Linked DNA regions of Homo sapiens. The protein of the gene in region 1 interacts with the protein of each later gene in a pairwise test. Each region holds a gene or a part of one and is shown on either strand. Other genes may lie near its edges.

Region 1 (4,797 bases):
CTCACCTCGGACCTCCAGCTTGCACTCAGCCAGCGCCTCGCCCAGCTCGTTGACGGCCCGGCAGGTGTAAGTCCCAGCGTCGAAGGGCGAGGGGCGACGGATGTTCAGCGTCAGGACTCCTTGGTAATTGGTTATCAGGAACTTGGGATCTTCACGGATTTCCATCTTGTTCTTCATCCAGACCACCTTCGGCTGTTGAGAGTCAAGGGAGAGGAGGCCAACTTAGAGAGAGACCCTGGGCAATGATGACAAAATGGGGCTCAGGAAGCCGATCTGGGTTCTAGGCTCTGCCACCCTCTTGCCAGATGTTCTTGGACGAGTCACTTCTCCCTGACCCTCAGTCTCCTCTTATGTAAAAGCAGGTTGATAATCCCACTTCACAGGGTAACGGTGGGGTCTTCCCATTGCTCTCAGGACAAAGAGCTCACTGTTTGTAGTGGCCCACAGGGTCCCACACTCTTTGACCCCCATTACTTCTCTGCTCCAGCCAAACAGGCTACCTCACTGTCCTTCAAACAGACCAGACAGGCACCCACCTCAGGACGCTGGCACTGGCTGTTCCCTCTTCCATAGTGCCCTTCCCTTTTTTTTTTTTTTTTGAGACAGAATCTCGCTTTGTCTCCCAGGCTGGAGTGCAGTGGCGTGATCTTGGCTCACTGTAACCTCCACCTCCCGGGTTTAAGCAATTATCCTGCCTCAGCTTCCCAAGTGGTTGGGATTAGAGGCGCCTGCCACCATGCCTGGCTAGTTTTTGTATTTTTAGTAGAGATGGGGTTTCACCATGTTGGCCAGGCTGGTCTCAAACTCCTGACCTCAGGTGATCTGCCCGCCTCGGCCTCCCAAAGTGCTGGGATTACAGGTGTGAGCCACCGTGTCTGGCCCAGCCCTTCATAATTTTATATTATTTATGTGACTCTGGGCAAATGTCAGTCTCCCCCAACATACAGGAAATTTCTTGTTCGAATCACCCAGGTCATTGAAAGCCTCTGAAAATGTTTGTTGTAAGAATAAATGGAGTGAATAAATGAATGAGAGCACGAAACAGTGCTGTAAATAAGCAAATGGAGTGAAGGAATGAACTGAGTAAATGGATGGATTGGTAGGTGGATAAATGAGTGGAATGAGTGACATGAATGAGTGGAGTTAGTGAATACAGTATACAGAGATGGAGACATGGTATGCCTTAAGGAGGCTGAAGCGAATAACCTACAGCCCAGACCAGAAGCTGGCAAACTGTTCCTATAAAGGACCAGATGGTAAATAATTCAGGCTTTTTGGGCCCTGTAGTCTCTGGGCCTGGAACGCGAGCCACGCACATTTATTTACATTTTGTCTGCAGTAGCTGTAAACAAAACATAAACAAATATGCTTGGCCCGTGTTCCAATAAAACTTTATTGAGAGAAACAGGTGGTGGGTGGATTTGACCCATGGGTGATGGTTTGCCAACCCCTGGTCTAAATGAGCTCTAGGTTGCAAGTGTCCCTGTTCACAAAGAGCAGTTGGAAAATGGCTGGACAGGAAGACCCTGGGGAGCCGTGCTGGTCTAGGCTGCCCCTGCTCCCAACGTTTCTTTTTCCATGGGACTGGCATTTGTCCTTGGACAGAGCAAGAGAGACTTAATGGTCCTCTCCTCAAGCTGCCGAGACAAGCTGTTACCTGGCAGTCAGGGGACAAAGAAAAAGGCAAGAGGCCAGGAGCGGTGGCTCATGCCTGTAATCCCAGCACTTTGGGAGGCTGAGGCAGGCGGATCACCTGAGGTCAGCAAAACGCCGTCTCTACTAAAAATACAAAATTTAGCTGGGCATGGTGGTGCACGCCTGTAATCCTAGCTACTCAGGAGGCTGAGACAGGAGAATCGCTTGAACTTGGGAGGCGGTTGCAGTGAGCCAAGATCGCACCACTGCACTCCAGCCTGGTCTCAGGAAAGAAAGAAAAAAAAAGAAAGAAAGAAGGAAAAAGGCAGGAAGCCAAAGGCAAGATGTGATTGATTGTCTGAGACTTGGGCTCTGGTCAGAGGAGCTAACAGGAAGTGGGTGAAAAGTGAGCAAGTCCAGTCTGGGCGTGGTGGCTCACACCTGTAATCCCAGCACTTTGGGAGGCCGAGGCGGGAGAATCACTTGAGCCTAGGAGTTCAAGACCAGCCTGGACAACATAGCAAGACCCCATCTCTACAAATTATAAAATTAGCTGGCCACAGTGGTTCATGCCTGTGGTCCCAGCTACTCGGGAGGATGAGGTAGGAGGATCACTTGAACCCAGGAGGTCAAAGTTGCAGTGAGCTGTGATCGTGCCACTGCACTCCAGCCTGGGTGATACAGCAAGACCCTGTCTCAAAAAAAAAAAAAATCAAAAATCAATTAAAAAAATTTTTTAAGTGACTAAATCCCTTGAGACAGAGAACTCGGGGAAGAAGAACTGGCGTGATGGGGAGTGGGCTTCATTGTATGGAAGATTCCCCACAAGGCAACACACACGCAGATCTGGGTCCCTGCCCTGGCACCTTCGGGTGGCCTCTGACAGCACAGTTGAGGGCTGCCGAGTACCCAGCCACGACCACGCGGTCTATGAGAGGTGTCAGGAACTTGGGAGCCATCCGGAAGTCATGCTCCTTATACTCGAACGGTTTGAAGGTGATTCCTGGGGAGAGAGGATGCACCCGTAAGGCGACTGATCTAGATTCTCCCCTGACACCAACCAGGGAACAAACCGCAATCACCTCTCTCCCATGACTAGGTGCCGTCAACCCCAGTGGGGAGGGGAGGGCAGGAGTCCAGGTGGGACCTGGGCGAGAGGGTGGACGGGGTGGGCCTGGGCTGTGGGGCAGGATGGCTGTACCTGTCTTGAGGATGCGGGCCGTGTTCTTGGAGACACCAGGTGAGTCACTGAGCCCACAGATGTTCTCGGTGTAAACTCGGAAATAGTATTCATTGCCCACGATAAGGTCGGACACAGTACAGCTAGTGTGCCTGTTACGTTCATAGACGTTGAACCACTCCTAGTGTGGGGACAGGGAGGGACCAGGCGGGTCGGGGCCACAGGATCACACGATTACACACAAGACACAGACGAAAGAAGGGGTGAGAAAAGCACATCCAGTGTTTAAAAAAATGTCACTCATGGCGCACTACTCACAGTGGCCAACAGGTGGAACCAACCCAGCGCCCATCAGCGCAGGGATGGACAAACAAAACAGTCGGCCCAGACAAAGGAACATCATTCAACGCTAAGAAGGGGTCAGGCACCGTGGCTCATGCCTGTAATCCCAGCTCTTTGGGAGGCCGAGGTGGGAGGCTCGCTTGAGCCTGGGAGTTTGAGACCAGAGTGGGCAACCCGGCGAGACCCTTGTCTGTTAAAAAAATCAAAAAATTAGCCAGGTCTGGTGGCCAGCACCTGTAGTCCCAGCTACTTGGGAGGCTGAGGGAGGAGGATTGCCTGAACCTGCGGGTTGGAGGCTGCAGTGAGCCATGATCATGCCACTGCATTCCAGCTTGGGTGACAGAGTAAGACCCTGTCTCAAAAAAAAAAAAAAAATTTAAAAGAAATAAAGGCCAGGTGCAGTGGCTCATGCCTGTAATCCCAACACTTTGGGAGGCCAAGGTGGGAGGATGACTTGGGTCCAGGAGTTCGAGACCAGCCTGGACAACATACTGAGACCCTGTCTCTACAAAAATTAGCGGGATGTGGTGGCACGTGCCTGTATTCCCAGCTACATGGGAGGCTGAGATGGGGGGGAATCACCTGAGCTCAGAGGCAGAGAAGGCAGTGAGCCAAGATTGCACCACTGCACTCCAGCCTGGGTGACAGAGTAAGACCCTGTCTCAAAAAAAAGAATTCTAAAAACAGGATTTCTGCATGGACACACCCGGCACCCTGCAGCATGGATGAACTTCAAAGACGTTGTGCTGAGCTAACAAAGTCAGACACAAGGGTCACATAGCTAGGATTCCATGTGTATGAAATGTCCAGAGTAGGTAAATCCAGGGAGACAGAAAGCAAATCGGTGGCTGCCAGGGGAGACCAGGGGGTAGCGCTATTGGGTACAGGGCTTCCTCTGGGGGATGAAAATGGACTGGGTAGAGGCGGTGGCTGCACAACCCTGCAGATGTCCTAAGTGCTGCTGAATTGTTCGCTTTAAAACGATGAATGACTAATTCCGTTATGTGACGTTTACCTCAGTGAAAAAAGAAAATGAAAACCCATCACGTGCCAAGTCTCAGCTAAAAGGCTTCCCTCCTGGCCCCAGCCCGTCCTCTAGCCTCTGGGCCCCTCCCTGCCCTTCCAGCTGTGAACGGGGGACATCTGCACCTGCTCTGCCCACCTCACCGGCTCTTCCCCATCTCCCCCTCTGCTCTCTCACCATGGTTTTTTTGTCTGCTTTCTGGACGAAATACCCCATGATCTCACTGTTCCCATCATCTTTGGGGGCCTGCCACTCCACCAGCGCGTTCGTGCCCCACACCTCCTTCACCATCACGTTTATGGGGGGCCCAGCCTTTTCTGGAAATGGGGAAGTGTGACAAGTCAGTCCAGGTTTTGGGATGTCCAGCCGCTTCCCTCCCCTCCCCTCTCCACACCCCCTCCCTCCTGATTCTAACCTCTCTTATGCCCCATTCCCATTCCTGCCTATGGCCTCCCCCATCCCAGTCTCTCCACTTCCTCTTATCCTGGGCCACCCTCATCCCTCCTCACCTCCTCTCCTCACCCCCATGTCTCCCCACTTCCTCTCTTCACCCAATCTCCCTCTCAAGGGTTCCCCCATCTTCATCTCTCCTCCACTCCTAGCCCTGGTACTTGCC
Region 2 (4,085 bases), on another chromosome or scaffold:
ATTATAACTCAACATGTTAAATGCTGTCAGGGAGAGATCCACAAAGTTCTGTTAGAACACAGATCACCAACATTCAACTCAACAACTCAACCTGTGTGGGAGTCAGAATGGTTCACCAAGTACTTAAGTACCTGACATATGAGCAGGGTTGTACAGGAGAATTGTTTTCTGGGTGAAGGAGGAAATAGAGAAGAAAGGGCTTTCCATGTAGAGGCTTGAAGTTGTGTAAGTGCCTGACAAAATCCCACACGACAGAAGCTGTGCGTACAAGCAAGCATATATATGTGCACATGTACAGCAACTGGTATGGCAACTAGAAAAGGTACATTGAAGGTCGGGTGCGGTGGCTCACGCCTGTAATCCCAGCACTCTGGGAGGCCAAGGCAGGAGGATCACCTGCGGTCTCAGGAGTTCGAGATCAGCCTGGCCAACATGGCGAAACCCCATCTCTACTAAAAATACAAAAATTAGCCAGGTGTGGTGGCACACGCCTGTAATCCCAGCTACTTGGGAGGCTGAGGCAGGAGAATTGCTTGAACCCGGGAGGCGAAGGTTGCAGCGAGCCGAGATCGCGCCACTGCATCCAGCCTACGCAACAGAGTGAGACTCAGTCCAAAACTAAGAGGTTTGGATTTTATTCTGTAACAGGGTCAAGAAATTTTTACGCAGGTTTGTTTTTAGAAAGTAACTGACAATACAATAGAAAATGGACTGGGGTAGGGAGAAATGGGTGACAGGACATGAAAGAGGAATAGTCCCTGGGAAAGATTATAGGGATCTAAAGAATAAGGAGTAATAAAGCAAAGGACAATTCTGGCATAGGATAAACAAGATATCATGACCAACTGGAAGTAGGAGATGAAAAAAGACATAAAACAAGGACACGAAGATTTACAGTTTAGGAAACTGAGAGTGAAGCTATTAAGAATGAGAAAACAGCACATTTGGCAGGAGAACAAAATGAACACCACCTTAAACCTGGAAGACATCCAGGTTGAGGGATGCATATTCTCTGGCTTAGGGTCTAAGGAACAGCCAACCGTTTTCCCCTATCTAGGATACAAGGAGCGACCAGTCATTTCCCATAGTTATCCAGCCCTTCTGTGCTTCTGACTGCCCTCAAGGTCCCATGCTTTCCCCCACACATAAAGAAGCCCTTTCATTTCTATCCCCAAAGCTGTCTCACTGATGCACCTTTATGGCATGGGGAACGTAAAGCGGTAAAATGGATTTCGGTAGCTCCCCAGTCTATTCTTCCTTCCATCTAAATAGACCCCACAGAAATTCAAAACATAAGCATTATCTTTCTATCAAACAATCTTTCCCGATTTCTACCAAATAAATATGAAGGATCTGTTAAATTAGCAATTAAAAAAAAAAACTAAGCCAGAATACTAATTTATTAAATTTATTTATAAGAAATACAATTGTCAAAGCAGCAGCTCTCACCCAAAAGAACAGCCCATTATCTCCCTGGAGCAGACTTAGATTGAAACTTAAAAACTGTTTTGATCCAAACATTGCTTACTAAAATGCCAAGAAATCAAAATAGTAATTAATGGATAGTAACTAATGTAGCCATTGATTACCATGTAACTCTGGGTCACTATTCATTAGTAAAACGAGATTGAGGACTTCAAAAATGAGTGAAGATTGCTAAGGGTACCTTAAGAATAGGGTTGTCTTCCCTATTCTACTGTCGAAATATGGGCGAAATGGGCGATTATACACAAAAATACATTCTCAGCTGGAACGCTATAATGTATCATCACAATAAGGAAAAGTAAAAAATAATTAAATAGAAAAACATGGCCGTGTTTCATAACATACTCAAGACAGAAAAGAGCAAAACTCACCAAGTGTTTAAATTATGAGTTATTTCAACTGTTACAAAAATAGAAAACAGATATACAATTCTTTAAACTGGGTCAGAATACAGGAAGATGTTAAGAATGAGATCAGCCCCCAAACTGAGGGCAAAGTGGTGGGCGTGGATCAACCAAACGAAAATAAACTCGACTTAACGTAGGAGCAGTTTCACTCTACTGTACTTTGAGATATCCAGAATATTTAAAGAGAGGAGAACCAGGACTCTTCCCCTGGCCCCCAGTGGTCTTTCATCATAGAAAATCTGTTGAGAAGAGGCAAGAGGAGGTGTGTGAAGAAAAAAGGGAGGAGCAGCATTCCTTTGCGACCTGTCCGCGTCTCCTGACTGATGGAAGTAGGGACCAAACGGACGTTCCCAGGGTCTTAGAAAAGCCCTCCCTTCCCTCGCTCCAGCTGTTACCTTCCACTTCCTCCGTGCCCTCCATCAGCATATCCTTTGTAAAGTTTGATATCTGGCCAGTGAGGGAAGCCAGGCTGCCCCCGACTTGACCCAGAGACTGGCCCAATCCGGAGCCGAGGCCCCCAAGCCAGGACGACATCGCGGCGAGTTTAGAGAACGACCCGGTCCGCTCGGAAAAAAGAAAACGTTTAGCGCCGCCGGGCGATCCGACCAAATATCCTTGAACGCCTGCCTTCGCGAGACAGGATACGATAACACAAAGCTGGGTTCTCAGGCAAGGCCGACTCCAGGTTCTGCCTAGAAACGCAGAGGCCTGGCCTGGAATTTTACCAGGGGCCCGCCTCTAGTGACACAGTCACCTACGGAGGGCCTTCTGCTCATTCCCACGAATTCCCACCGTCCAGATTGGGCCACTTCTTTCTCAGCTCTAATGACTTTCCTCAGTTCCGTGGGTTACTCCTGCCAACTCGACGCCGGCCGCCATGACACTCGCTCGGAAAGCGGCAGCGGATCATAGAAAAGCGCCGCGGTGGCGTAGACAGGCCCCGCGAAGCCGCCGGACGTGTCCTTGGCGCAAGGGAGGCTGGGATCGCGGAGGACCGAGCGCGGGCTGGATTAACCGCAGCCAGTGCCTAGCGCAAGGTTAGGTGCATGCAGGCGGCCAGCTTCGGCCGGGGAAGGAATGGCCTGGATAACTGGGGCATCGCGGCGCTCCTCGGCCTCCTGCAGCTGCGTTTCAAAGCAGAGCCGACCCTTGGTGGGTAGTCCGGGGACCCTGCGGACCCTCCTTGTGTTGTTGAAACCTAGTGTTTTAATTGGGACTACACCCAGCAGTGCCGGGAGACTTGGCGGGGACGTTCCACTGCGCAGGAAGTGGCTTCAAATAACTTACACGCGTCACTGTGTCGATTAGCTGCTCCGTGACAGGCACTATGGTAGGAGCTGAGGCTACAAAGATAGAACGGATGGGTTGCAAAAAAAAAAAAGGAAAAAGGAAAAAAGAAAGGATGGGTTGCAAATTCAGGTGTCCAAGCAGGAAACACACCTTCCTTCTATAGGAGAAATCTCCTCTGGTGGCTTTATAGCTCACAATTGAAACCCTACCTTCTTTAACATACGATGAGCTTTTTTCATGAAGCTGCCCTCACCCAAGTAGTTGAAAAACGGACAACCGTTTTTCAAAATGACTCGTTAGAAGACAGCAGGGCAACTTAATAGAGAAGTGCCGTTTAGTGTCAACGCTCCTATGGTATTGGCGGCACTAGCTATGCAAGTGCCCACACCTCCCTCAGTCCTTAGTTACCCACACTGGCTGTAACACACAGAGTCCTACCTTGCTTGCTTCCTTCCCTAAAGGAAGAAAGGTTGTCATGTGACTTTCAAGCAATTGGTGCAGGATACGTGGACACACAGCATCTAGCCAGGGAGACTTCCACATTTTTTGGTTTCAAAAGGATATGATAGATCTGCAGTTCTTTTAAGCATAGCAATAAGTATACTGGCATCTTTCACTTTGATTATATTCACAAGAGGGGCTATCACAGATTGCACAGTTTGTGAACAGAACATTGGGAATGCCTCCAGTATTTGGGATCTGATGGCACCAGGCAGTAGTAATTCTCCGTGAAAGCTGAATTTTTTTTTTTTAAATTTTATTTTTTGAGATGGAGCCTCGCTCTGTGGCCCAGGCTGGAGTGCAATGGCGGGACCTAGGCTCACTGCAACCTCGTCTCCCGGGTTAAAGCGATTCTCCTGCCTCAGGCTCCCAAGTAGCTGGGACTACAGGCGCCCATTCTTC

What was found. Proteins that work in one complex are often made in the same cells at the same time.
Region 2: the proteins of MYBPC2 (region 1) and TRIP11 interact in a two-hybrid assay, tested with the Homo sapiens proteins (one large-scale study listed by BioGRID and IntAct).

What each region holds. Positions count from the first base shown.
Region 1 is NC_000019.10:50,459,741-50,464,537, reverse strand, and holds part of MYBPC2 (myosin-binding protein C, fast-type), read right to left. Parts: intron 4,499-4,797; coding exon 4,359-4,498; intron 2,997-4,358; coding exon 2,837-2,996; intron 2,639-2,836; coding exon 2,502-2,638; intron 193-2,501; coding exon 6-192; intron 1-5. UniProt on the Homo sapiens protein: Thick filament-associated protein located in the crossbridge region of vertebrate striated muscle a bands. In vitro it binds MHC, F-actin and native thin filaments, and modifies the activity of actin-activated myosin ATPase.
Region 2 is NC_000014.9:92,037,260-92,041,344, forward strand, and holds the start of TRIP11 (thyroid receptor-interacting protein 11), read right to left. Parts: upstream 2,801-4,085; 5' UTR 2,427-2,800; coding exon 2,288-2,426; intron 1-2,287.